Homo sapiens: one gene and its partners. The main gene of each other region encodes a partner of the protein of the gene in region 6 in a complex. Each region holds a gene or a part of one and is shown on either strand. Other genes may lie near its edges. The genes, in order: SARNP, THOC5, THOC1, PPP1R8, AKAP17A, DDX39B and CHTOP.

Evidence for each region.
Region 1: DDX39B (region 6) and SARNP share a complex: the UniProt entries of both Homo sapiens proteins name them as parts of the transcription/export (TREX) complex.
Region 2: DDX39B (region 6) and THOC5 share a complex: the UniProt entries of both Homo sapiens proteins name them as parts of the transcription/export (TREX) complex.
Region 3: DDX39B (region 6) and THOC1 share a complex: the UniProt entries of both Homo sapiens proteins name them as parts of the transcription/export (TREX) complex.
Region 4: DDX39B (region 6) and PPP1R8 share a complex: the UniProt entries of both Homo sapiens proteins name them as parts of the spliceosome.
Region 5: DDX39B (region 6) and AKAP17A share a complex: the UniProt entries of both Homo sapiens proteins name them as parts of the spliceosome.
Region 7: DDX39B (region 6) and CHTOP share a complex: the UniProt entries of both Homo sapiens proteins name them as parts of the transcription/export (TREX) complex.

Annotation. Positions count from the first base shown.
Region 1 is NC_000012.12:55,800,725-55,804,224, reverse strand, and holds part of SARNP (SAP domain-containing ribonucleoprotein), read left to right. Parts: intron 1-496; coding exon 497-596; intron 597-3,324; coding exon 3,325-3,371; intron 3,372-3,500. UniProt on the Homo sapiens protein: Binds both single-stranded and double-stranded DNA with higher affinity for the single-stranded form. Specifically binds to scaffold/matrix attachment region DNA. Also binds single-stranded RNA. Enhances RNA unwinding activity of DDX39A.
Region 2 is NC_000022.11:29,536,758-29,540,257, forward strand, and holds part of THOC5 (THO complex subunit 5), read right to left. Parts: intron 2,720-3,500; coding exon 2,573-2,719; intron 1-2,572. UniProt on the Homo sapiens protein: Component of the THO subcomplex of the TREX complex which is thought to couple mRNA transcription, processing and nuclear export, and which specifically associates with spliced mRNA and not with unspliced pre-mRNA.
Region 3 is NC_000018.10:244,048-247,547, forward strand, and holds part of THOC1 (THO complex subunit 1), read right to left. Parts: intron 2,409-3,500; coding exon 2,277-2,408; intron 1,786-2,276; coding exon of another isoform or gene 1,780-1,785; exon of another isoform or gene 255-1,779; intron 1-254. UniProt on the Homo sapiens protein: Component of the THO subcomplex of the TREX complex which is thought to couple mRNA transcription, processing and nuclear export, and which specifically associates with spliced mRNA and not with unspliced pre-mRNA.
Region 4 is NC_000001.11:27,840,782-27,844,281, reverse strand, and holds part of PPP1R8 (nuclear inhibitor of protein phosphatase 1), read right to left. Parts: intron 3,269-3,500; coding exon 3,048-3,268; intron 1,097-3,047; coding exon 952-1,096; intron 1-951. UniProt on the Homo sapiens protein: Inhibitor subunit of the major nuclear protein phosphatase-1 (PP-1). It has RNA-binding activity but does not cleave RNA and may target PP-1 to RNA-associated substrates. May also be involved in pre-mRNA splicing.
Region 5 is NC_000023.11:1,594,604-1,598,103, forward strand, and holds part of AKAP17A (A-kinase anchor protein 17A), read left to right. Parts: intron 1-780; coding exon 781-929; intron 930-3,500. UniProt on the Homo sapiens protein: Splice factor regulating alternative splice site selection for certain mRNA precursors. Mediates regulation of pre-mRNA splicing in a PKA-dependent manner.
Region 6 is NC_000006.12:31,539,204-31,543,318, forward strand, and holds the start of DDX39B (spliceosome RNA helicase DDX39B), read right to left. Parts: upstream 2,801-4,115; 5' UTR 2,747-2,800; intron 1,976-2,746; exon of another isoform or gene 1,898-1,975; intron 1,462-1,897; 5' UTR 1,330-1,461; coding exon 1,119-1,329; intron 72-1,118; coding exon 1-71. UniProt on the Homo sapiens protein: Involved in nuclear export of spliced and unspliced mRNA. Component of the TREX complex which is thought to couple mRNA transcription, processing and nuclear export, and specifically associates with spliced mRNA and not with unspliced pre-mRNA.
Region 7 is NC_000001.11:153,637,066-153,640,565, reverse strand, and holds part of CHTOP (chromatin target of PRMT1 protein), read right to left. Parts: intron 2,272-3,500; coding exon 2,118-2,271; intron 1-2,117. UniProt on the Homo sapiens protein: Plays an important role in the ligand-dependent activation of estrogen receptor target genes. May play a role in the silencing of fetal globin genes.

The DNA of each region.
Region 1 (3,500 bases), on a different chromosome or scaffold from region 6:
ACATTAGCTAATGCATCTACCTAATTCTATGGTGGTTAGACCTGTATGCATGTATATGGTAGATTGTAATAACGGATCTGGGATAATAAGTGGTAAGGAGAATCTGCTTTTAGATCATTGGATTTTCTACTTGAAGGTTCATTCTTCCAATATGCTGGCTGCCACAGTAGTCTTAAGAAAAAAACCTTTTTCCCCCCTCAGAATATTTAGAAATAACTAGAGATTTGTGACAGTTAGTAGGTATACAAATAGATGAGGTTTTTTATTAAAGTGTGATGTTTATTCTTCAGCATCTGTTAGGCAGTTCCTCTTGTATATTGAATATCGTTAGAGGAAAATGGATCATCTTTGTGGACCTAGAGCCTTGGTAGAATTAAGGGCAGTAATTTGGGATGGAACTTCATTTTCTTTTTTTCTTTTCCTTGTGGGAACTACCATTTTATTCACTGGTGTTCATCCTGTTAACTAAGGAAAAGTTTTATTTTTTTCCCCTCAGCTTGCCGAACTAAAGCAAGAATGTCTTGCTCGTGGTTTGGAGACCAAGGGAATAAAGCAAGATCTTATCCACAGACTCCAGGCATATCTTGAAGAACATGGTGAGTACTTTGTGGAGGCGGAGTGATGTGAGTGAGGGGATTTTCAGGCTTTGACACTGAAAAGATTTCTTTTTTTTTTTTCAGGTCATTAGCAATGTAAGCTCTTAATTAACGGCATCAAGAAAACTCTCTCTTTTTTTTTTTTGAGATGGAGTCTTGCTCTGTTGCCCAGGCTGGAGTGCAGTGACGCAGTTTCAGCTCATTGCAACCTCTGTCTCCCGGCTTCAACCAATTCTCCTGTCTCAGCCTCCCAAGCAGCTGGGACTACAGGCGAGCACCACCATGCCTGGCTGATTTTTGTATTTTTAGTAGAGACGGGGTTTCACCATATTGGTTGGGCTGGTCTAGAATTCCTGACCTCAGGTGAGCCACCCGCCTCAGCCTCCCAAAGTGCTGGGATTACAGTTGTGAGCCACCGCGCCCAGCCATCTTGTACAACCTACATCTTAGGTTGTACAAGTCCTCTATCTAATTTTTATTTACGTATTCCCTTTTATTTCTATTCCTCATTTCACTTTCTCCCCAACCCATTTAGGCACCCGTTCTAATGTGTTTGAATGTATTTTTTTGGTGTTTTTCCTGGTAAACTATGTAGTGTTGTTTTGTAGAATGTTTTCATTTATATAATTGGTAATTACATAACTGGCCATAGCCTTGCTTTATTTCTCATTTTTTTCACTAAGTATTGTGTTTTTTTTTTTTTAAAGATGCGTCCATGTGGAATGTGACTGTGTAGTTATCTAGTCTGTTGATTCTAATTCCTGCATAGCATTCAATGATGGATAACCACACATTTTACTTAATTCACTCGGTGACAGAAAATTTTATTGCCACCAAGCCTCTGCTACTATAAGTGATACTACTTATAGTATACTATATGTATATAATAGTATATAGTATATATTATACTATGGGTTGAGTGTTATATATTTGAAATGCTTGGGACTAGAAGTGTTTCAGATTTTAGTTTTTTCGGATTTTGGAATATTTGTGTATATATATAATGAGATATCTTGGGGGTGAGATCCAAGCCTAAACACAAAATTTATTTGTTTCTTATCCACATATCTGAAAGTAGTTTTATACAGTATTTAAAATAATTTTGTACATGAAACAAAGTTTTGACTGTGACCCATTGCATGAGGTTAGGTGTGGGGTTTTCCACTTGTATCATATCAGCCTTCAGAAAGTTTTAGATTTAGGAGCATTTTAGGTTTTGAATTTTCAGATTGGTGATGCTTAACCTGTAGGATATAGTATACTATATCCTATATACTAATAGTATATAGTATATTATTATGAACTACTTATTTTATGCTCTTATGTTCCTGTGAAAGTCTTTTTGGGGTATATGCCCAAGAATGGTATTGCTAATTAATATTCATAAATATATACTTAATGTGACTAAGGACTCCCAAATTATTTTCCAGAATTGCTCTGTAGATCTGCAGTCTCATTACTAGTACATAAGGGTTCTTGTATCTTCACAAACCTAAACTTGGCACTGTCCTATCAAGTGGCCTAAGTTTTGCTAATTTGTTGGCTGTTTTATGTTCTCCATGAAAAAAGTTTAAACATTTCACAATTCTTTGGGTTTCTTCTTTGCCCATTTTTCTGTTGAGGTTCCCATAATTTGCCTGTTGGCTTGCAGGCATTTCTTTTATATTCTAATAACTATTGTTTTGTTGATTTTAGGCACAAATATCTTCTTTGGCTGTGCGGGGTGGTTCATGCCTGTAACTCAGCACTTTGGGAGGCTAAGGTGGTATGATCTCTTGAGGCCCGGAGTTTGAGACCAGTCTGGGCAGCATAGTGAGATCCCATCTCTAAGAAAAATAATAAAATTAGCTGGGTGTGGTGATGTGCACCTGTAGTCCTACCTACTTGGGAGGCTAAGGCAGGAGGATCCCTTGAGCCCAGGAGGGGGAGGCTGCAGGGAGCTGTGATTGTGCCATTGCACTTTATCTGGGCGACAGAGTAAGACTCTGTCTCAACAAAAACAAATGTCTTGTCATTTGTCTTTTAAGTTTCTTTGTGCTATCCTTAAGTAGAAGTACTTAGTTTTGAAAAATCTTCAATTTTTCACCTCTTACTTTTGGTTCTGGGTTGTTTTTCTTTTAAACAAATCTTTCCCCACCACTAAATCTCAAAGATACTTTTCCACATACTTTTTTTGTTTGTTATTCAAGACTGGGTCTTGCTCTGTCACCCAGGCTGGAGTGCAGTGACATGATCTCAGCTCACTGCAGCCTCTGCCTTCTGGGTTCAAGTAATGTTCCCACTTCAGCCTCCCCAGTAGCTAAGACTATAGGCGCACACCCCCACACCCAGCTAATTTTTTTATGTTTTTTGTAAAGACGGGGTTTCGCTGTGTTCCCCAAGCTGGTCGCTTGAACTCCTAGGTTCAAACGATCCACCTGCCTCTGCCTCCCAGATTGCTGGGATTACAGAGAGCCACGGTGCCTGGCCCAACATTACTTTTAAAATTAATTCTCTAGTTTGACTTCACATTTAGTTCTTCAGTCCAACTGGAGTTCACATTTGTAATTAATGTTAGGTAGAAATCTGGTTTTATCTTCTCCAGATGTAGCAGATTTTATGTGCATCAGTTTCTGCCTTCACTGTTGGATTTTTTGGGGGAAAGCAAAGTGATTATAATTTTAACCTTGGTAAGTGATCAAGATGGTTTTGTAGCAGGGCTTGACCTGAATATTTTAATATTCTTTAGCTGAAGAGGAGGCAAATGAAGAAGATGTACTGGGAGATGAAACAGAGGTGAGTTGGATAGAGTAAGGTTAGTCTCTGGTAATGTGCCACTGCTTTGGCCACATTGCTTTAACATCAGTCATTGGAGGACTTAGATGTAAATTTATTAGGGGAGCATAAGATGGGTATGAAGGTTCT
Region 2 (3,500 bases), on a different chromosome or scaffold from region 6:
CATTGTCACCTGATATCCCCCAGTGATACCTCAACATGCCTGTTCACTGTCAGACTCCACCTAATAGTAGCAGCCATGATTAACTGCCAATGTTTATCCAGCACTCAATGTGTGCCAGGTACTTTGGTGAGCTCTTTAAAAGCATAATTACATTTAATACTTATAAAGACCCTGGAAGACAGGGACTTTGCTTATCCCCAAAGGAGGAAACCAAGGCTCAGGCAAGTAGATAACTTGCCCAAGGGCATCCAGCTAAGAACAAACACTGCGCTAGGCTTTGGATCCATGTCTCTTGCTCTCCAGAGGCTCTGTCTGCTCTGTAACCACTAGGGAATACACATGCCATCTTCTGCTCCATTTCTTGCTTGAGAGGTAAGACCTAAAACTTTCACAAACATGGACTTAGCAGCTATATAACCCAAAAGAGGCCCATGGACTGGCCTGGTTAGCACAGGGTGGGAACAGATTCTGGACCAGTGCCACAAGAATGCAGCACTGATGGCTGAGTCAGTGCCCAGCACAATCAGTGGACTGGACAGCGGAGTGACAGGTCAGCCCCATCTGCTAAGACACTGACACAAATTTCCTAAGAACCAGACTCGGCCGGGAATGGTGGCTCATGCCTGTAATTCCAGCACTTTGGGAGGCCCAGGCAGGCGGATCACCTGAGGTCAAGAGTTCGAGACCAGCCTGGCCAACATGGTGAAACCCGTCTCTACTAAAATACAAAAATTAGCTGGGCACAGTGACATGCGCCTGTAATCCCAGCTACTCAGGAGGCTGAGACAGGAGAATCGCTTAAACTGGGGAGGCGGAGGTGAAACCCCCAACTCTATTAAAAATACAAAAATTGGCCGGGCACAGTGGCTCACGCCTGTAATCCCAACACTTTGGGAAGCCGAGGCAGGTGAATCACGAGGTCAAGAGGTAGAGACCATCCTGGCCAACATGGTGAAACCCCGCTTCTACTAAAAATACAAAAATTAGCTGGGCGTGGTGGCACACGCCTTGTAGTCCCAGCTTCTCAGGAGGCTGAGGCAGGAGAATTGGTTGAACCAGGGAGGTGGAGGTTGCAGCAAGCCGAGATCACACCATTGCATTCCAGCCTGGGCGACAAGAGTGAAACTCTGTGTCAAAAAAATAAATAAATAAATAGATAAATAAATAAATAAACCTCTTTATTCATATAGAAAAGTTTATACCTAAAGTGTGACTTGAAGCATTATTTATTTATTTATTTTTTGAGACGGAGTCTCATTCTGTCGCCCAGGCTAGAGTGCAGTGGCGCAATCTCGGCTCACTGCAACCTCTGCCTCCCGGCTTCACGCCATTCTCCTGCCTCAGCCTCCTGAGTAGCTGGGACTACAGGCACCCGCCACCATGCCCGGCTAATTTTTTATATTTTTAGTAGAGACGGGGTTTCACCATGTTAGCCAGGATGGTCTCGATCTCCTGACCTTGTGATCCGCCTGCCTTGGCCTCCCAAAGTGCTGGGATTACAGACGTGAGCCACCTCGCCTGGCTGAAGCATTATTTATGACAGCAAAAAATGGAAACAACCTAAAATCCAACAGGGGAATAATTTTGTGCATTTTTCTATACACCAGAATATACACTAGAATGTTGCACAACCTCCTGAAATAGTGTTTACAAAGCTTTCTGCCATAGGCATACACTTACAGATAAGGGGAAAGGCAAATACAAAATTAGATTTATGGTACAAAAGATAAGGTCTTCGGCATTAAAATTTCAAGGAGAGACCAGGCATGGTAACTCACACCTGTAATCCCAGCACTTTGGGAGGCCAAGGTGGGAGGATCACTTGAAGCCAGGAATTCAAGACCAGCCTGGGTAACAGAGTGAGAACCCTGCTCTACAAAAATAAAAATATTAGCCAGGCATGGTGGCAGGCACCCATAGTCCTGGCTACTTGGGAGGCTGAGGCAGAAGGATCGCTTGAGCCCAGGAGGTCAAGGCTGAAGTGAGTCGTGATAGTGCCACAGCACTCCATCCTGAGCAATAGAGTGAAACGCCATCTCTTTGGAAAAAAAAAAAAAAAAAAAAAAAAAAGGGCCAGGCACAGTGGCTCACGTCTGTAATCCCAGCACTTTGGGAAGCCAAGGCAGGCAGATCACTTGAGGTCAGGAGTTTGAGATCAGCCTAGCCAACATGGTGAAACCCCATCTCTACAAAAAATACAAATAATAGATGGGCGTGGTGGTGCACACCTACCACCCAGCTACTCGGGAGGCTGAGGACTGAGAATCACTTGAACCTGGGAGGCAGAGGTTGCAGTGAACTGAGATCACACCACCGCACTCCAGCCTGGGAGACAGAGTGAGACTCCATCTCAAAAAAAAAAAAAAAAAAAAAACCCTTAAGCAATTATAACCCCAACCCCATCCATGATGAGGTTGGTGAAGTTTAAACTATCCAGTGTGATTTAATCATAAAATGGGATTTGGTCTTAGAAACTATTCTGAGAGTTGCACAGTGTTTTGCTGCCTTATCCTGGGTCATGACAAAGCACTGACACTTTGTGGTTAAAAGGTCAGGAAGGAGGAAATGCTACCTTTTCCGCTGCTCCAGCTCCCAGTCCAGACGTGCCAGTGTTTGCTGGTGAGGGTCTCCCATGGTGACTTCGGCCTTGCTGATATCTGGTGGAGCCTCCTTATAAAACTCCTCTAAACTGACCAGATCAATTTCTTCATGCTTTGACCTACAGACAAAAACATGACATCAAGCTGCTGTTCTCAGGAAACTAAACTGTAGTTTAAGCAGGCCCAAAGTTATCCCCAACATATGCCTGCTTAGTCCTGGTCTACAGGATCCTGGAATCCAGTCTTCTCCACAAATGCTCATTAGCAGATATTTCAGTGTGAAGAAAGGTAGTTGGTGACATGCCATAGGATCCTTATCCATGCTGTCCAACCTTTTTACCCATGAATTAAAGACTCGGAAGGGATTCTTATCAAATTTACAAATGTCTCCAAGCTGAGCAGGAGAACTACTAGCTAAAAAGTCAAGTAAAAACACTACAGCCTGGGCCTAGGCTGTAGGGTTGAAAGCAAGACATAATTTAACAGGAATAAATACAAGGGTCTGCACTTAAGTTCAAGACATTAGCCGCGTAAGAACAGAATGAGGAAGATCCAGCATGGGAGAACTGGATGGAAAAAGATCTAGAGGCTTAAACCGTTGCATGCATAGTGATTTATATGTATAAAAGAAAAGAAATTCTGCCAGGCGCGGTGGCTCACCCCTGTAATCCCAGCACCTTGGGAGGCCAAGGCAGGTGGATTACCTGAGGTCAGGAGTTCGAGACCAGCCTGATCAACAAGGTGAAACCCCGTCTCTACTAAAAATTAGCTGGGCGTGGTGACGCATGCCTGTAATCCCAGCTACTTAGGAGGCTGAGGCAGGAGAATCGCTCGAACCCAGGAGGCAGAGGTTGCGGTGAGCCAGGATTGCGCCATTGCACTCCAGCCTGGGAGACAGAG
Region 3 (3,500 bases), on a different chromosome or scaffold from region 6:
TGGTTACCCTTTTAATATACATGAAAAGGAATATTCAGTATTCCTTTCCTACTCCTGAAGATTACAAGGACTGCCATAATTTTAAATTACTCACTAAACATCTCTGCTTTCCCCTTCCATATTATTACTGTCATCTAGTTAAGTTCCACGTTAATAAAATTTTTTAATTAAAAAAATTTTAAATCATTCATGACTTTTTTGTGTTTATAGTCAATAGTAAATTTACTGTCATATTTTTCAATTTTTGTGCTCACCGTTGCCTTCTGTATCCCACTCCATTCTTATGGGTTCAATTTCCTTCCTCCTGAAGAACATCCTTGAGTAGTTTTTTTCAAAATGAGGGTCACTGAGTGGTAAGTTATCCTGGTCTTTAAATAAAAATGTCTTTCTTTCATCGACAGTCTTGAGTATATTTAACTCGGTATAAAATTCTAGATTGAATGTCATTTTTCTTTCAGCACTTTAATATTTCTCTACTGTCTTCTGGTATTAATGGTTGATATGTTAGAAATCTGCTAACAGTCAAACTGCTGTGCCTTCCCAGTATATTTGTCTTTCTTATCCCTTAGTGGCTTTTAGGTTTTCTCTGAATGCCCACAGTTATGGCATGATGTAATGAAGAGTAGATTTATCTTTCTTTATCCTGCTTGGCAGTTGTGACACACTTTTAAGCTGAGGATTTGAGATTTCCTTCAATTCTTTGCAATCCAGTTTCTCTACCATTCCCTCCATTTTCTTCTTTGGAAATCCTACTAGACAGATGTTGGAAATTCCCAATCTATTCACCATGGCTTTTAACTGCTCTTCCACTTAAAAAAAAAAAATCTGTCTGTGCTGCTTGCTGGATGAAGTTCTCATCACCTTCTTCAGTTCACTAGTTCTTTGTTCATCTATGTCCAGTGTATAGTTTAATTCTGTGTGCTGAGTTTTGGTTTCAATTATTGTATTTTTCATTCCCAAGACTCCCGATTAGTTGTATCGACTGTCCTACTTCATTTCAGCCTGCTTTTGTTTCATGATTTCTTGTTCCTTTTCAATGGATGTTATCTCATCGATTATCTTTTTGAGTATCCAAAACATACATAAAGTCTTGGTCAGGCTATATATTTCATCTGGAATAAATATATATATATATCCCAATAGTTGATTTTGCTGGTGATCCTTCTTAGCATTAGATTTATGGATTTTGGAATTTTAATTTATCAGAGTTTTGAACAGGAGCCTTTTCTTTTGGGATGTTTGTTTACTTCCTTTCCCCTCCCTCTCTGTGTACATCCTTCCCTGTCTAGCAGTTTTGCATCTGCTTCTACCAGGGCCCCTGAGTCCAAAAGTCTAGAAGAAGTCTTATGATGACTTCTTGGAGCAGCTGTTTCATAAGTATACTGAGCATATCACATATCTGGTCACTGAGCAAGCAGATGGACACAAAGCTGTCTTTGTTATCCCTAGGCTCACAACTTCCTATAAAACCATAGCCCTTGGCAGAAGACTGGCAATATTTTTTCTTAGTTTCTTCCCAAAACTGGATAAAAGTTCCACCCTAGTCCTTGGCTTCAAGAAGTGAATCTGGCTCTGGCCCCTTGTCCCACATGGTGCACATTTAGTCTCTGTTACTTGTAGCCAAATTCCTGGACACCACCACCTGCCTTGGATAGAGAGTCCAGCAGGCCCAGGCTGCAGTTTTGCTCACTACTTGGCATTTCTGGTCCATGAAGATATTTATCTTGTTTCTGGAAGCCCAGCCTTGTCTCTTTTGTTTTCTCGTTTATATTTTACCCGTCATTGCTATGTGTTTGGAGCAAAGGGAGTGAGTCGAAACATAAACTCAATGTGCCATCTTGACTAGAAACTTTACATAATCTTGTAGCATTATATTTGAATAAAATTTACTTTTTAAAATGTATAAATAAGATTAACAAGGAACTTTTAAACCCCTTACTTGCACCTAAATAATAATTATGAAATATTTTCATATACAAATTAAATCCTAACTTGACATTTAAAATATATAGACATGAAAGTAATTAAACTGCATTTATTCCAAAATTAGTTTACAAAACAGACTTAATGTAGAACTACTTTCACCTTTGAAACCAAATTAGTCCTACTTCTGAAAGGAAGAAATGGGACTTTCAAACTAACATTAATCAATCAGCTTTAACCCAAAGTAAAATAAGAAACATTTCTATTCAGTTTAACTTAGAAAGGCTGTCAGCTAAACGGAAATAAAACAAGACCATTTCTTATTATGCTTAATGAAAAAGAAAAACTTATACCTTTTCACTTGTTAAAAATTTTGCAAAATATACATGTTCTCCTCCTGTTTTCAATTCTTCCATCTTTTTTCTTGAGGCCTGAGTATCATCTAATTTATAACTCTTAAAAACAGCTAAAACTTCTTCAGAATACTGCAAAATAAAAATATTAGTTTTATTCGACATTGTTACCCAAATTTGTTTAGTGCTTTTCTGCATCAAAATGCCTAGAATTTACTCCCAGTCAATCATGTATGTAGACTGTATATTGCAAGGCACACTAACAATACAAATTATGATAGCAGAATGGGAGTTAAAACTATTTTGTATGATATTTCACTTGTTGCAAAAGTAGGTACAAGCTCCCTACTCCTAAAGAAATATAATTTCTTGGCCAGTGGTGGTGGCTCACGCCTGTAATCCCAGCACTTCGGGAGGCGGAGGGGGGCGGGTAACTTGAGATCAGGAGTTTGAGACCAGCCTGGCCAACATGGTGAAACCCCGTCTCGACTAAAAATACAAAAATTAGCCAGGTGTGGTGGCGGGCACCTGTAGTCCCAGCTACTCAGGAGACTGAGGCTGAAGAATCCCTTGAACCTGGGAGGCTCCGTCTCAAAAAAAAAAAAAAAAAAAACGAAGAAATATGATTTAAGAAGTCTGTGTAAGGGACAAATAGATTAGGGAACATTTTTAAGAGTGTACAGAAATTTACCAGTGAAATTGTTTAACCACCTGTGGAAACTCTTACGCATTTCTTGTGCTAAAAACTGAGCAAATAAATTCCACCAAATTCTGTCCAGTTAGAAGACAATTCCAGATTATTTCTCACTAACCACTTAATCTGAATTTGGATGGTGCTGCCCCCACAAAAAATTGCATATAAAACAAAAACTATTAAAAATAACATAACACACACCATGCTATTCTGAGAACTACCTATTTATCTTAGATTTTAATTATGACAAAAAAGGACAACTGATCTTTAAGTAGCCAAGAAAAATATAACAAATTCTTCTAAAACAGGATTGGCAAACTTTTTCTGTAAAGGACCAGAGAGTAAGTATTTCAGGCTTTGTGGCCTTTATAATCTCAGTTGCAACTACTCAGCTGTGCCATTATAGTGCAAAAACAGCCACAGGTAAGTGGATGGTCATGGTACTATTCCAATAAACCTTTGTTTATAAGCAGTAGGTTAGATCTGGCCCAGAGCCATGACTTGAGGACTTCTGTTTCAACAAGATAGCT
Region 4 (3,500 bases), on a different chromosome or scaffold from region 6:
CCTGTAATCCCAGTGCTTTGGGAGACTGAGGCAGGAGGATCGCTTAAGCCCAGGAGGTCAAGACCAGCCTGGGCAACATGATGAAACCCCATTTCTACAAAACATATGACAATTAGCTGAGCGTGGTGACGTGCACCTGTTGTCCCAGATACTCAGGAGGTTGAGGTGGGAGGATCACCTGAGCCTGGGTGGTCAAGGCTGTAGTGAGCCGTGACTGTGCCACTGCACTCTAGCCTGGGCGACAGAATGAGATCGTGTCTCACACACACACAAAAAAGAAAAATTAAAAAACATATAAATTTCTAGGTCCAACCCTGGAAACTCTTTTTTGGAGACAGTCTCACTCTGTCACCCAGGTGGGAGTGCAGTGGCACAACCTCGGCTCACTGCAACCTCTGCCTCCCAGGTTTAAGCGATTCTCCTGCCTCAGCTTCCTGAGTAGCTGGGACTGCAGGTGTGTGCCACCATGCCTGGCTGATTTTTTTATTTTTTGTAGAGACAGGGTTCTGCCATGTTGGCCACCCTGGTCTTGAAATCCTGGCCTCAAGCAATCCACCAACTTCAACCTTCCAAAGTGCTGGGATTATAGGCATGAGCCACTATGCCTGACCAACCACAGCTTTTTCTTTCTTTTTTTTTTGTCACCTAGGCAGGAGTGCAATGGCACAATCCCGGCTCACTGCAGCTTCTGCCTCCTGGGTTCAAGCAATTCTCCTGCCTTAACCTCCCAAGTAGCTGGGACTACAGGCGAACACCACCATGCCCAGCTAATTTTTGTATTTTTTTTAATAGAGATGGGGTTTCACCTTGTTGGCCAGGCTAGTCTTGAACTCTTGACCTTAAGTGATCCACCCTCCTCGGCCTCCCAAAGTGCTAGGACTACAGGCGTGAGCCACCGCGCCCGGGCCAACCACAGCTTTTTCATCAGAATAAACTAGCAAGATACCTCACCTGGGTTGATGATCTCATCATCCTCACTGAATGTCACCCGTGAGTTCTTCCTCTTCCTCTTTGGTCTTTGAATGTCCAGATTTCCCTCCTCAATGGTAAGGGTAGAAATCCGCTTGTTGTGGGCAGTGTTGAACTCTGTCAGGTTCTAAGCCAGGGTTCATACAGGAAAGACAGCAGTCAGTACAAAGGGAATCTGATGGAGAAAATCATACTAAATAAAGGTGAGGAAGGCATGAGGGGCTAATCTTGACCTCCAAAGGGAGTTGAGACACTTCTGCATTTAGAGAAGATTCATACTGTCCCGAGACTACGAATACTAACAAGTCTCAAGTCTCATTAGAAAGAATGTGGAACATCCTCATTGACTAGTGGGGCAGTGATATTCAAGAGGTAAAGGGCCTTGAGCTGAGAACAGGTCATCTGTGCAAATATCCTTGAGTTGTGTTTTTTGTTGTTGCTGAAGAAAGGCTATCATGTCTTCATGCCCACAATAAGCTGAGAATTAAAAGGAAATGTGGCTGGAAGGAACGCCAAGAATTGTTTTTAAGTAACAAAATTGAGATGAAAAAGGACAACTGGCTGCTTCCTTCCTAGTAGCTTTCTCCTTCAAAATTAAGGACACTGCTAGTGCACTTAATTTTTGGCGTTAATATTTTGTCATGCCCCATCCTGTGTCTGGCCCCAATTCTATTCATAACTATCTCAATAATTAACTTGGCCTTAGCTCTGTTGCTTGCCTCTTCCCAATCCACTGAAATTATTCCTTTCTGGTACAAACCACAAGTTTGAGATATTCTAAATGTCTTAAGAATGAAGATCCAGGGAGTACCTAACATACTGAACTAAAAGCCATGGAAGTATAGCAGCAGCCTGGATAAGGTGGCCTAAAGGGGAAATGGGCAACAGCAAGGTCCCTGGCTATGAAGCCACTTCTTCAAAACAAAACGACTTCTTAATTGTAAAATTTCTCTTTTTTTTTTTTTTTTTTGAGACGGAGTTTCGCTCTTGTTGCCCAGGCTGGAGTGCAACTGCGCGATCTTGGCTCACCACAACCTCCACCTCCCAGGTGCAAGTGACTCTCCTGCCTCAGCCTCCTGAGTAGCTGGGATTACAGGCATGCACCACCACACCCAGCTAATTTTTTGTATTTTTAGTAGAGATGGGGTTTCTCCATGTTGGCCAGGCTGGTCTCGAACTCCTGACCTCAGGTGATCCGCCCACCTCGGCCTCCCGAAGTGCTGGGGTTACAAACATGAGCCACTGTGCCCGGCCTAAGTTGTACAATTTCTATCGTGCTTTTCTTCCTAAGAGCCAGGAAACTGCCTTGGTGTACAGGAATAGTAAATGCAGGTGGGTGGTTAAGGACATGATTGCATTTGGTCTATTTGAACAGACCAATCACACCAGTGCAGTGACAGCTATGTAAAGGACTATAGCCACACCAAACTACTGGGGTCAGTTTCAAAAAAGGAAAACTTCTAGCACCTTAAAATTAAATCTTATAAAATTCATGGCCCTCAGGACAGCGAGGCCCATGGAAGAACAAAAGCAGTCTGGCTCTATTCAGAAGATTCCTGGACTGTTCAGATAGCACCAAAAAAAGCTACATGAATGAATGAAAATGTCAGTCTCTCTAAGCCAGTGCTGTCTGACAGAACTTTCTGTGAGGATGAAAACATTCTCTCTTTGCACTAGCCAACATAGCAGCCACTAGCCATATGTGACTACATAATACTTGAAATATTGTTAGTGGCTACCATATTGGACAGCATTAGCTCTAAGCAGTCAAGGGACAGAGAAATGTAGCTTCCAGTCTTAGCTTCTAACAGCCAGTGAAGGTGCACAAAACAGCTCAAGGAGACTAGTGGCTGGGACTCAGCCTCCTTGTTAGGCCTGGTGATACACAACCAAATCCATACAATGTGGCTCTCCGAGAGCTGTCACAGCTGGCCACACCAGATTGCCAAAGGCCCATTACTGGACTCAAGAGAACCCCCTGCTGCTAAGTCACTGGCATTTCCAGCTACATAGAACAGCTGTATACTCCAAAAACCAGGGTCCCCAAAGACAAAACAATGACATAAACAGGGAATTACATCAAGCTCAGTTTCCTCCTCTGGAAGCCCCAGTAAGCCCTTGAGTTCATCATCCTCTCCACCCATCTTCTCATCTCCTTTCACAGCCGATGGCAATGTCTGAGGCTTCTCGCGCAGAGTGTATGCCCTTGTGGATGCGCCAAATGAGACCGTGGAATCGATGGGAATTTGCTGAGGCTTGTGAGGTTCCAACCGAATGTGACCCAAGAAAGTGCCGTGTGCTGGGAATAACCAAATCAGAAACGTAAGGGGGAAAACAAAAACAACCTGAGTTTTAGAAGGAAGAGTATGATCGCCAACTCTCTTATCAGGTCAGCTTCCCCCCAGCACATCAGTTTTGCTTTTTTGTCTGTTTTTAATTTATTTTAAAAATGCCATAGTCAGGATCATGGTCAGAAACTCCAGCTTTTTAAAAAATGAAAATGGCACTGGGTCCACCACATCCATCATGTG
Region 5 (3,500 bases), on a different chromosome or scaffold from region 6:
TTTTTTTATTTTTTTTATTTTTATTTTTTTTTCGAGGCAGAGTCTCGATCTGTTTCCTGGACTGGAGTGCAGTGGCGCAATCTTTGCTCAGTGCATCCTCCGCCTCCTGGGTTCGAGCGATTCTTCTGCCTCAGCCTCCCGAGTAGCTGGGACTACAGGCGCGTGCCATCACACCTGGCTAATTTTTGTATTTTTAGTAGAAACAGGGTTTTGCCGTATTGGCCAGGCTGGTCTCGAACTCCTGACCTCATGAACTGCCTGCCTCGCCCTCCCAAAGTGCTGGGATTACAGGCGTGAGCCACTGCGCTCAGCCTAGCCTCGTGTTTTGACCGTGTTGGCTTCACAGTGACAAATGAGCCAGCCTCCTGGAGGGGGTTTTGTGGCCTTAAGATGTGCCCTGTGGGTGTGGGCAGGCGGCCTGCTCAGTGACTGTGGCCACAGGGAATGGTGGAGCCGGGTAGCGGAAGGGGAGCTGTGTCTCGCAGCGGTGGCGTGTCACTTGTGTTCAGTAAGTGGCGAGGGCTAGTTGGTGTTCCTCGCTGAGTCGTAACTCCGTGGGATGAGCTAAGTCTTGAGCCACTGATGGTGACTTGAAGGGATTGGTTTGGCTTCTGGGCTCCACTGTCTGGGTCTGCACCGGACATGAGTGGTGAGCGGTGAGCGGTGAGCGGGCGCTCAGGCTCTGAGGCCACTCGGCCCTACGGCCCAGGAGAGGGCGCCTGGCCGTGTGTCTGGGGGGTTTTGGGGGAAGGCCATCTGACACTGTTTTTGCTTTTAAAGGTTTCTTTTGATTCGACCAAACACCTGAGTGATGCCTCAATTAAGAAGCGGCAGCTGGAGAGGCAGAAGCTTCAGGAACTGGAGCAGCAAAGAGAAGAACAAAAGCGCAGAGAGAAGGAAGCGGAGGAGAGGCAGCGAGCGGAGGAAAGGTACCTTCTGCGGGAGCGGGCCCTCGGCGCTGGTGTCCGGCACCTGGGAGTGTGCGCAGACCCGTGTGCGTGTGTCTGCATGTATTCCTGTGCGTGTGTGTGTGCATGCATGCTTGTGAGCTTGTGTGTGTACCTGTGTGCATGGACGCACGTGTGCCTGTGAACCGGTGTGTGTACTTTGTATGTCCCTATGTGCGCCCGAGTGTGTGCCTGAGCATCTGTGTGCACGTGTGCCTGTGTGTGCGTGCATGTGTGTGAGCTCGTGTGTGTACCTGTGTGTGTATGTGCACGTGTGCCCACATGTGTGTGCTTCTGTATCGGCACATAGCACACATGTGCCTGTGTGCATGCGTGTGTGCCTGTGAACCCGTGTGTGTACTTGTGTGTGCACGTATGGGTGTGTGTGCAGGCCTGTGGGTGCTCAGCTGTGCACGTGAGGACCTGCGTGAGTGGCTGTTTGAGACGCAGCAGAATATGAATGTTTCTCTTTTTCTTGTCACACGTCGTGGTCTGACACGATCTCTGCCGGCTCCCAGGACCGCGCCTTGCCCGAAGAGCCACCTCTTCTCCCTCCACATGCTGTTCACACCTCCCGCTGAAACAAGCAGAATGCCTTGGCTGTTTGCAAGTTTGCATTTAGGTTGAGGCTACATTTACAAAATGAAGTAGAGGGTTGATGGTGATGGCCAGATTTAAAAAAAAAAAAAAAAACAAAAAACCAATGATAGGACAAAAACCCGGTTTCACATAAGAGGCCTTTAAAGCAATTGCCTGGGTCGTTCACTGTGGTTGGGGTACCAGAGACAACCTCAGGTCACTCTTTGTAGCCCCTTTTATCTTCTTAGCATTGCAGGAGGGAACCAACAACTTTCTGTGAATCCCCTGAGGCGGAATCCTCCTCCTCCTCCTCCTCCTCCATCCCTCCCACCCTCCTAGTGAGGTGGATTCCTCCTCCTCCTCCTCCATCCCTCCCACCCTCCTAGTGAGGCGGAATCCTCCTCTTCCTCCTCCATCCCTCCCACCCTCCTAGTGAGGTGGATTCCTCCTCCTCCTCCTCCATCCCTCCCACCCTCCTAGTGAGGTGGATTCCTCCTCCTCCTCCTCCATCCCTCCCACCCTCCTAGTGAGGTGGATTCCTCCTCCTCCTCCTCCATCCCTCCCACCCTCCTAGTGAGGTGGATTCCTCCTCCTCCTTCTCCGTCCCTCCCACCCTCCTAGTGAGGTGGATTCCTCCTCCTCCTCCTCTTCCTCCTCCATCCCTCCCGCTGTGCCCTCCTAGTGAGGCGGATTCGTCCTCTTCCTCCTCCATCCCTCCTGCCGTGTCCTCCTAGTGAGGTGGATTCCTCCTCCTCCTTCTCCGTCCCTCCCACCCTCCTAGTGAGGCGGAATCCTCCTCCTCCTACTCCTCTTCGTCCTCCGTCCCTCCCGCTGTGTCCTCTGACGACTTTGGTGCGTCCTGCACGTCTGTTGCGCTTCATGTCGCCGATATCAAGTCTGGGACGTGTTGGACTTGGCTGGGGGGCTCCTGGACAGCCTCTGGTGGGACCGAGTTGGTCCGTTTTGTTTCCATTTCTCACTGCTTTATGTGACGCTGGTGCCAGCGTGTTGATGTGTGTGGCTGGTGATGTTTGCACGAGAGTCCCGGCACTGAACTCCTGGGAGCAGGTCCATCCTGCCCGTGGTGTTCTTTACGTAGCCCCCGTTGCCTCCCCAGGGGAGAGTCGGGTTGTCAGCCTCTGAATCTGAACCCCGAGGGCTCCTTAGGTGAGGCAGGTGCAGTGTGTAAGCGAGTGGCCGTGAATGTGCTGGGGGGGCCCATGTCAGCCGTCAGGATTCCCAGGACCTAAGGCAGGCAGCACAGAGAGGCAGACGCCCTGGGAGGGAGGGACATGCTGCTGCGTCGCCATCCTGGGAGGCGGTCCCTGGGAGGGGCGGTTCGGATGTGGGGTTGAGTCCGGGTCCCCTGTGTCAGCCACTGTCAGGCCGAGCAGGACAGCTGGGGTGGGAGACAGTCCTGGGGCGTTACAGGGACTCTTCCAGGCTGCAGACACAGCCCAGGCCTGGCTGAATGTGCCTGTCCACATTCTGGAAGTGTGGAGTGGGACTCAGAGCCTCGGACCTCTCGGTGTCGCAGGAGTGTCCCCGCAACATTTCAGAAAGCAGCTTGCGGGTGCGGAGAAGAAGCTGCATCCTTGATCTTTCCCTGAGGAGAGATGGACGTTGGAGTAGTGGAGTGTGTCTCTGCAGGGAAGGGACCCCGTCTGCCTGGCCAGACCACAGAGGGATTGGGGGAAGCGGGGCCGGGCCATGAGGTTCTCGAGAGCAGGATGGGGTGTCCAGAGCCCCGGGGAGGGGCAGGCCTGTTGTCTGGGGGAGCTGGCCAGGAGGGCTCCACACGCAGGGCCGTACTTGTCCCCGCTGTCCCCCACTGTCCTTCCTCAGAGGCTGAGCATGAGGGGAGGCCCAGGGCAGCCTCCTGCATTTCTTTCTGGTGGGTGGAGATGAGGCATGTTTGCTTGTTCAGCCCTCACGTGTAACTTTGAGCTTGATGAGAGCTGTCCTCTGAAAGCT
Region 6 (4,115 bases):
TCCCATGCCCGACTTGGCCTGGCACAGGACATCCATTCCCAGAATGGCCTGAGGGATGCACTCATGCTGGACTAAAAGTTGGGGGGGGAGGAAGATAAATTAGACTTCAGTCTCCAGATAACTCTACCTTTTTCACCATGCCAAGCCCATTTCTTACCACTCAATTCTCAAAGTCTAGTATTTACCTGGTTCTTGCCAACTTCCAGACCCATTTTACCTCTCTCTGCTCAATTACATTCACCTCAAAATCAGACTCTCCTAATTCCTCCTAGCTTTAGCCTCCTCCAGATCTAGGCCTTCCCAGTCCTAGTAACAAACCCCTTGCATCTACCAACCGCTCACCTTCAATGATCCTAGCTCTGTCCTTATTTTTCTTAATCTGTAACAATTCATGACATTTGAATACCTGCCACAGACCACTTCTCCTGCTTAGGTTGCTATACTTCGGGTCACGTAACTACTACAACCCTGGACAAAATGAAGGACTTGGTACCTGACCCAGAAGCCAGTCATCTCTAAACCAGTCATAGAGGTTTCCAGAGACCACAGTTGGCCTGGCCCAACAGAGGGAGACTACAGGTCCAAGCAGGACCTTTCTGGAAATTTAAAATTAGAAGTCAAGTGACAAAATTAAAAATAAGCAGACAAGAAAAGCCAGTCACAAGAATGAATGGCAGACCTGGAAGTCACTTTTGGATCATTAGCACTTTGGTGCTATCACGAAAGAAAGAATAAGCCTGTATAAGCCTCCTCTATCCAAAATTGTTTTTGATACTTATCCCCTGATTTTTTCTTCCTCACTGTCGCCCCGGCTGGTGCACAGTGGTGCAATCACGGCTCACTGAAGCCTCAACCTTCACCTGCTTAATTTCTGAACGTTTTGTAGAGACAGGAGTCTCGCTGTGTTGCCCAGGCTTCTCTTGCACTTTTGAGCTCAAGTGGCCACCCTCCTGCCTCGGCCTCCCAAAGTGCTGGGATTACAGGCGTGAGCCACTGCACCTGGCCCTGATCTAGCCTTAAGTATAAACCCTTACCACCACCTGAGCAACGACAAACACATCTTTGTATTGTACCCTTAAAGAGCCCAATGAGCACTACATGCCCAAGAGAAAATTTACCTTCTGACGGATGCTCAAAGCCACAGTCGACAATGGCCCGGAGCAACTCTGGCTTGAGCAGGAAGTCACGAAAGCCAGAGCTGTGGATGGAGACATAGGAGCCCTTGACATCCTTCTTGGCAGGGGCCTCAGCCCCATCTCCCCCAGCTGCTGTCTCCACCTCATCATCTTCATAGTCCAAGAGCTCATTGTCCACATCGTTCTCTGCCATAACTGGGCCGGCAGGGGAAGAAGGGAAGGGGGATCTGGATGGGTTCTCGCAAAATAGGTGAAAACAAGGGGTGAAGAGTAGGGGATTGAGGAACAGCAAAGGAAAACAAAGATACTATTTCTAACAGAAGAGCTGGAGGGGGGAAAAAAAAAAGCAAGACTTAATCACGAGCACAGCCTTCACCACCTCTTTTCCATCCCCAGTTCCCACTTTCCCTAAACCAGGAAACTTTTACCTGGAAAGAAAAACAGATACAAAACATAAAAACGAAAAGCAAATATAACAGAACAGAAAAAGCAGTACCAGGGAAAGTGGTTAGGACAGAGGTTCCCAACAAGATTAGCAATCACAGTAGCGGAAACCAGAAAAGTTGGAAGGGGAAGACCAACTTATAAATTCTTGATCTGAAAGTAACAGTGAGGAAATAGAATAGATAATAAAAGGTAAAATACGACTAATAACTTAGTAAAGTGGAAAATGGAGATGACAAGTAGAGTCCTGAAAAGTCCTCAAAGGAAGACTCCGCTTTCCCTATTATAATCCCACCGTTATGGATGCCTAACTCAGCAGCCATCAGTCAAGGGTGATAGATGAGGGTCATCACTGCGCAAAGCGCTCACCTTTCGAAAAGAAAACATCATATGGCCGCCGTCCACCTCCCATAGCTCTCAGCCTCCCACTTCTCAGTATCCTCCCTTCCGCTGTTTAAGCAAGCCTTGTGTAATTAGCATGGGGGGGAGGGGCGGTGCAAGACAAATGGCTCGGCCACAAAAAAACAAAATTCATGTCTCCACCCTACAATAAGAAAGCTAATAGGTGACAGAGAAAGGCAATCCCCGCCCAGGCTTTAACAGGATCTTTACCAAGTGGTCTCACATCACTGTTACGCTACGAAGGTGAGACTCCTTTTGGAGAAACATACAATGACACCAATCGTATCGTAAACACTTGGAAGGCACTCCAAATTAAGTTGGGCAAGTCAAGGTGAGAAAAATCCAACTGGGCCCAGAAACCAGCTCCTCCTCCCAGTCCCACCGAGGGCCGAGAAAGAGCTCAAGAAAGGACAAGGAAGGTGAGAAGAGCCCCGCCCTCCGCAAATACCAAGACCAAGGGACGCCGAGCGCCGCCTCTCATTGATGCTGAGGCCTCCAATATGAGAAGAACCCATTGGAAGAAGGGAGCAAAACGAACACAATGGCGCCGAGGACACCATCTTGGATTGGGTCCCCCCTTAGCTTCCCTTCCTTCCCCCAGGAGCTCTTTGCTCTCGAAAGGGATGCAAGCTAAGGAAATAGCGAACCAACTAGGCCCCAGCGACCAGACCATCGCCTGTGAAAAGGGTATCAGGAACCCATGTGACGGGATGGGTGCGGAGAAGCGCAGATGGAAACGGATTGTAGCGAAGGCCAAAGCTTACCTAAACAGGGAGAGCGCGTATGGCGGCAGCAACAGCGACGAAGGAGGGAAATCTGCCTTCACTTCCGGTTGCAGGCTTCCCTCTACTCCAGCCTCCCGCCTTCTTGGCTGCAAGAGCGCAGGCGCAAGGGACCGGAAACAGGGCCTTCCGCGGTTATACAGATCCGTGCGCTCCAGGCTTGCCTTTGGAAAATGCCTGTCTGAAATTTGTTTTAAAACCGTTTCTAACTTCACTGCTACCGCCAGTAACAAAAGATATAAAGGAAACTAACGTCTCCCCCCCACTGTTATCTTTATTCTCTTATCCTACTCCTCTCCATGCCCCTCATCTCTTCGTTTAGGTTTTTGCCACGCAGGTCTTCTCTGTAGGCACCCCTCCATGGATGCGCGAGGAACGAGTGTGGCGAAGGCTGCGAGTTCCCACGGGGTCCTTGGCCCGGTAGTGAAGGTGACCTGAGGACTGCTGGGCACGCACTAGGAACCGGCAGGCCCTAGCTGAGGGGAGGGAGGAGGGAAGTCTCAGGGAACTGGATTGCTCGGGGGTGTTTCCCGACTCTTTCCCAGTCGTGGGGCTGGTGGGCGGTATTTTCCCAAAAGGATGCTGTCCGAGGTAGCTGATGCCCTAGGGCCAGTGAGTCAGGAAGGTGTTCTGAATCCGAGCGGGAAGACGGGGTCTGGATTCGGCCCCAAGTGTTAATAGTAGGGCTTGAGGGTTATACTACATTCCATTAATACTGTTTTTGTTTTTGTTTTGAGACAGAGTCTCGCCCTGTCGCCCAGGCGGGAGTGCAATGTCCTGATCTCGGCTCACTGCAACCGCTGCTTCCCGGGTTCAAGCGATTCTCCTGCCTCAGCCTCCCGAGTAGCTAGGATTACAGGCGCCCGCCACCACGCCCAGCAAATTTTTGTTTTTTTAGTAGAGACGGGGCTTCACCCATGTATGACCTCAGGTGATCCACCCACTTCGGCCTCCCAGAGTGCTGGGATTACAGGCGTGAGCCACCGCGCCCGGCCCATTAATACTGTTAATTCGAGCAGAATGTTCTTGGCCCCGCCCCAACAGCCCCATTGTTCAACCTGGATTTTTTTCCTGAATGAAACATTTGCTATCCCCGTCTTTGAGATGGGGAGCTACAAAAGTAAGACCTGATGTCCTGCTGTGTAATAAAACAACAAACGTTTGGCCCTCTCCCTGTTAACATACTTAATCATTTAATACTAAGGAGTAGGTACCGTTATTCTCATCTTATTGACAGAAGCGAAGCAAAGCAACATATCTCAAGCAGTACGGCTGGTGAGGTTACAGCCAGGATGCAAACATCTCTCATTCTCTATTGTATTCTGCCTCCCTGCTCAAAGAATCTGGTTAG
Region 7 (3,500 bases), on a different chromosome or scaffold from region 6:
TCAGGTGATCCACCTGCCCAGGCCTCCCAAAGTGCTGGGATTACAAGTGTGAGCCACCATACCCAGCCTAAATTAAAAGCAAATTTTACTTATTTTCTTGAGACAGAGTCTCACTGTCACCCAAGCTGGAATGCAGTGGTGCCAACTCCACTCACCGCAACCTCCACTTCCTGGGTTCAAGAGATTCTCCTTAGCCTCTTGAGTAGCTGGGATTACAGGTATGCGCCACCATGCCCGGCTTTTTTTTTTTTTTAGTAGAGATGGGGTTTTGCCACATTGGCCAGGCTAGTCTCAAACTCCTGACCTCAAGTGATCCGCCTGCCTTGGCCTCCCAGAGTGCTGGGATTACAGGCCTGGCCTAAAATTAAATTAAAAAAAATTAAGCTCCTTAATTGCACTAGTCACATTTAAAGTTTTCAATAGCCACATGTGACTAGTGGCTACTGTACCGGAGAGCAAATACAGAACATTTCCATCATTGTAGAAAGTTCTGGCTGGGCACGGTAGCTCATGCCTGTAATCTGAACACTTTGGGATACTGAGGCAGGCAGATCACTTGAGGTCAGGAGTTCAAGACCAGTCTGGCCAACATGACAAAACTCCGTCTCTACTAAAAATACAAAAATTAGCCGGGTGTGGTGGCGGGCGCCTGTAGCTGAGACAGGAGAATCGCTTGAACCCGGGAGGCGGAGGCTGCAGTGAGTTGAGATTGCACCACTGCACTACAGCCTGGGTGACAGAGCAAGACTCCGTCTCAAAACAAACCAAACCAAACCAAACCAAAAACATAAAAAAATTCTATTTAATAGTACTACTCTGGATAGGGACTACTTCCTGCAGAGCCTATACTTAAAGCTTCTTGTTGAAAGGTCCTTTGGAATGATCTGTCAGAGATTCATCTTCAGCAACTTCCATTTACTCTTGGAAAATGGTGCCTTTTGCTGCTTTCCTGAGTCAGGGAGGAATCCAGTCACTCCAAGGCTTAAGGTAGCCGAAGCAGACACCCTTGTTTATTTTTGGTCAGTGAGCCCAATGGTTCAGGGTGGGGGTGTAAGGGTGTTATATTTAACTGCTGAATTTATGCATAGCCATGCAATGCTACCAAAGCCCTTACAGTTGCATGGCACTGCCCTCCAGACGCCCAGCCACAGCTTGGACATATCCTTCCACAGCCACTGTCCGGACTTGCATATAAATTCTATGAATAATAAAGAGCAGGTTTTATTTCAGGTCTGAATAGGATTATCTCTCACTGTAAATTTGAAAAAGAGAACCCCTAACTCAAATTACTCAGTATTCTTGCTCCACTTTACTGGTAAAACTTTAGGTGCTGTGGAAATGAGGGTCACTCTACTCTGTATATTTTAGCATTGAAAACCTTTGACTGCTGGGCGCGGTGGCTCAAGCCTGTAATCCCAGCACTTTGGGAGGCCGAGGCGGGTGGATCACGAGGTCAGGAGATCGAGACCATCCTGGCTAGTATGGTGAAACCCTGTCTCTATTAAATATACAAAAAAATTAGCTGGGTGTGGTGGCGGGCACCTTTAGTCCCAGCTGTTCGGGAGGCTGAGGCAGGAGAATGGTATGGACCCGGGAGGCGGAGCTTGCAGTGAGCCGAGATCGTGCCACTGCACTCCAGCCTGGGCGACAGAGCAAGACTCCGTCTAAAAAAAAAAAAAAAAAGAAAACCTTTGACTAAGGCCATGCAAACTCCCTGCACTATGGGAAAAAGAATAAAATTATTTCCCTGTTGGGTAAATCATTTAACAGAGAGTAAAGGATGCTGTGAGATTATCTAAAGCTGAAATAAAGTTTCTTTGTGGAATAAGCCATTAATCTATGTTAAGGGTTAAGGATCAGAAAACAAAAGATTAATACTCATTGGTAACAGAAACAGGCCACATAGATGGCAAACTCCCTAAAAGAGAAAGACAGTAAAAAGTTACTTATTGGTACCTGCCAAAATTGGAATTCTCTGAACTTCTCTTTCTTCCAGAGAAGTTTCAGCTTTTTGCCCTGAGCCACTTTGCAATCATCCATCACGTCCTGACAGCCTCAGTGGACTCCCTCACAGAGATCACCAGCTGCTTCTGGAGCATTAAGACCCATTCTCTCACCTGCTTAAGTTTTAATGCTGCCTGGACAGAGGGTCTATTCTCCATCTGCTGGGCCAGTCTTCTGTTTCTGGCACTGGCTAGCTGCTGTTGTTGCTGCATCGAAGCCCGAATATTCACTGGCGTCGGCTGTTTGTTCTTCAGCATATTAGTAAAGCTTCAAGGTCGAACAAAATGGATGTTTAAATAAAAGCTTTATTACAAACATTTATTGGCATTTTCATGGCTTGCTAGACCAGGAGCTCCAGATCCCACGAACTTTTAAGTAAAGTGGTACACTTAGATCAAGGCTGATGTGGGTTAAAGACTCCTCTGTTTCCACAAACTTGCAAGAATCAGAAACTTAGAAATGCAGCTAAGTGCAGCACATTCAACCAAAAGTGATAACGAGGGCTCAGGTAACGGCTTTTAGAGAGGTGGAAGGTATGAAAAACACGCAATAAGCAGATATGACAAGAGACAGAAGATATAGTTTCAAAGACAAATGAAGAAAGCCTAAACCTTGGGGGATCCGAGGTGCATTCTAAGGCCAAATATGAGGAAGGATTAGAGCACCTTCAAAGCTCACAGCAATGAACATACTCTCATAAATTACAGGAGTGTATCACATTTTAAAATATATGTCACTAACATGCAAACATAAATATTATGCAAACATAAATAATTAGCTTATCATAGCCAAAGAGATAAGGAGAGAAGCACATATGCCTCAGAAGAGGCAAAAATAGACATTAAGTAAATTTCAGTGGTCGAAAGTCAACTTAATGAAATCACTGATCAAAGGCATTCTTTTTTTTGAAACGGAGCCTCACTCTGTCCTCTGTTGCCCTGGCTGGAGTGCAGTGGCAGGATCTTGGCTCACTGCAACCTTCGCCTCACGGGTTCAAGTGATTCTCCTACCTCAGCCTCCTGAGTAGCTGGGATTATAGGCACACGCCACCACGCCCAGCTAATTTTTCTATTTTTAGTAGAGACAGGGTTTCACCATGTTGGGCAGGCTGATCTCAAACTCCTGACCTCGTGATCCGCCCGCCTCAGCCTGCCAAAGTGCTGGGATTACAGGCATGAGCCACCGCGCCTAAACAAAGGCACTCTTAATGAACAAAGTTGTCAGAGATAGAAACTGCCTTTGAATATCTTTACTTTTCTTAGTCTCCAATCATCACTTTTTCTGACTCCAAGTAGTTACTTTTCAAAGTTACATCAGTTTGATCATTTATGAGCCTGTGAAGAGACTCATTATTTCTGTCAAGGAAGTATAATGGAATGGAAGAGAAGAACACTTAACTGTAGAAGAATCCAAAACAAAACCAAACTAAAAGCAGAATGGAAAGAAAGTGAAATGGAGCAAAGCGAGTGCCTCTTACAAGGCCCAAGAATGACATT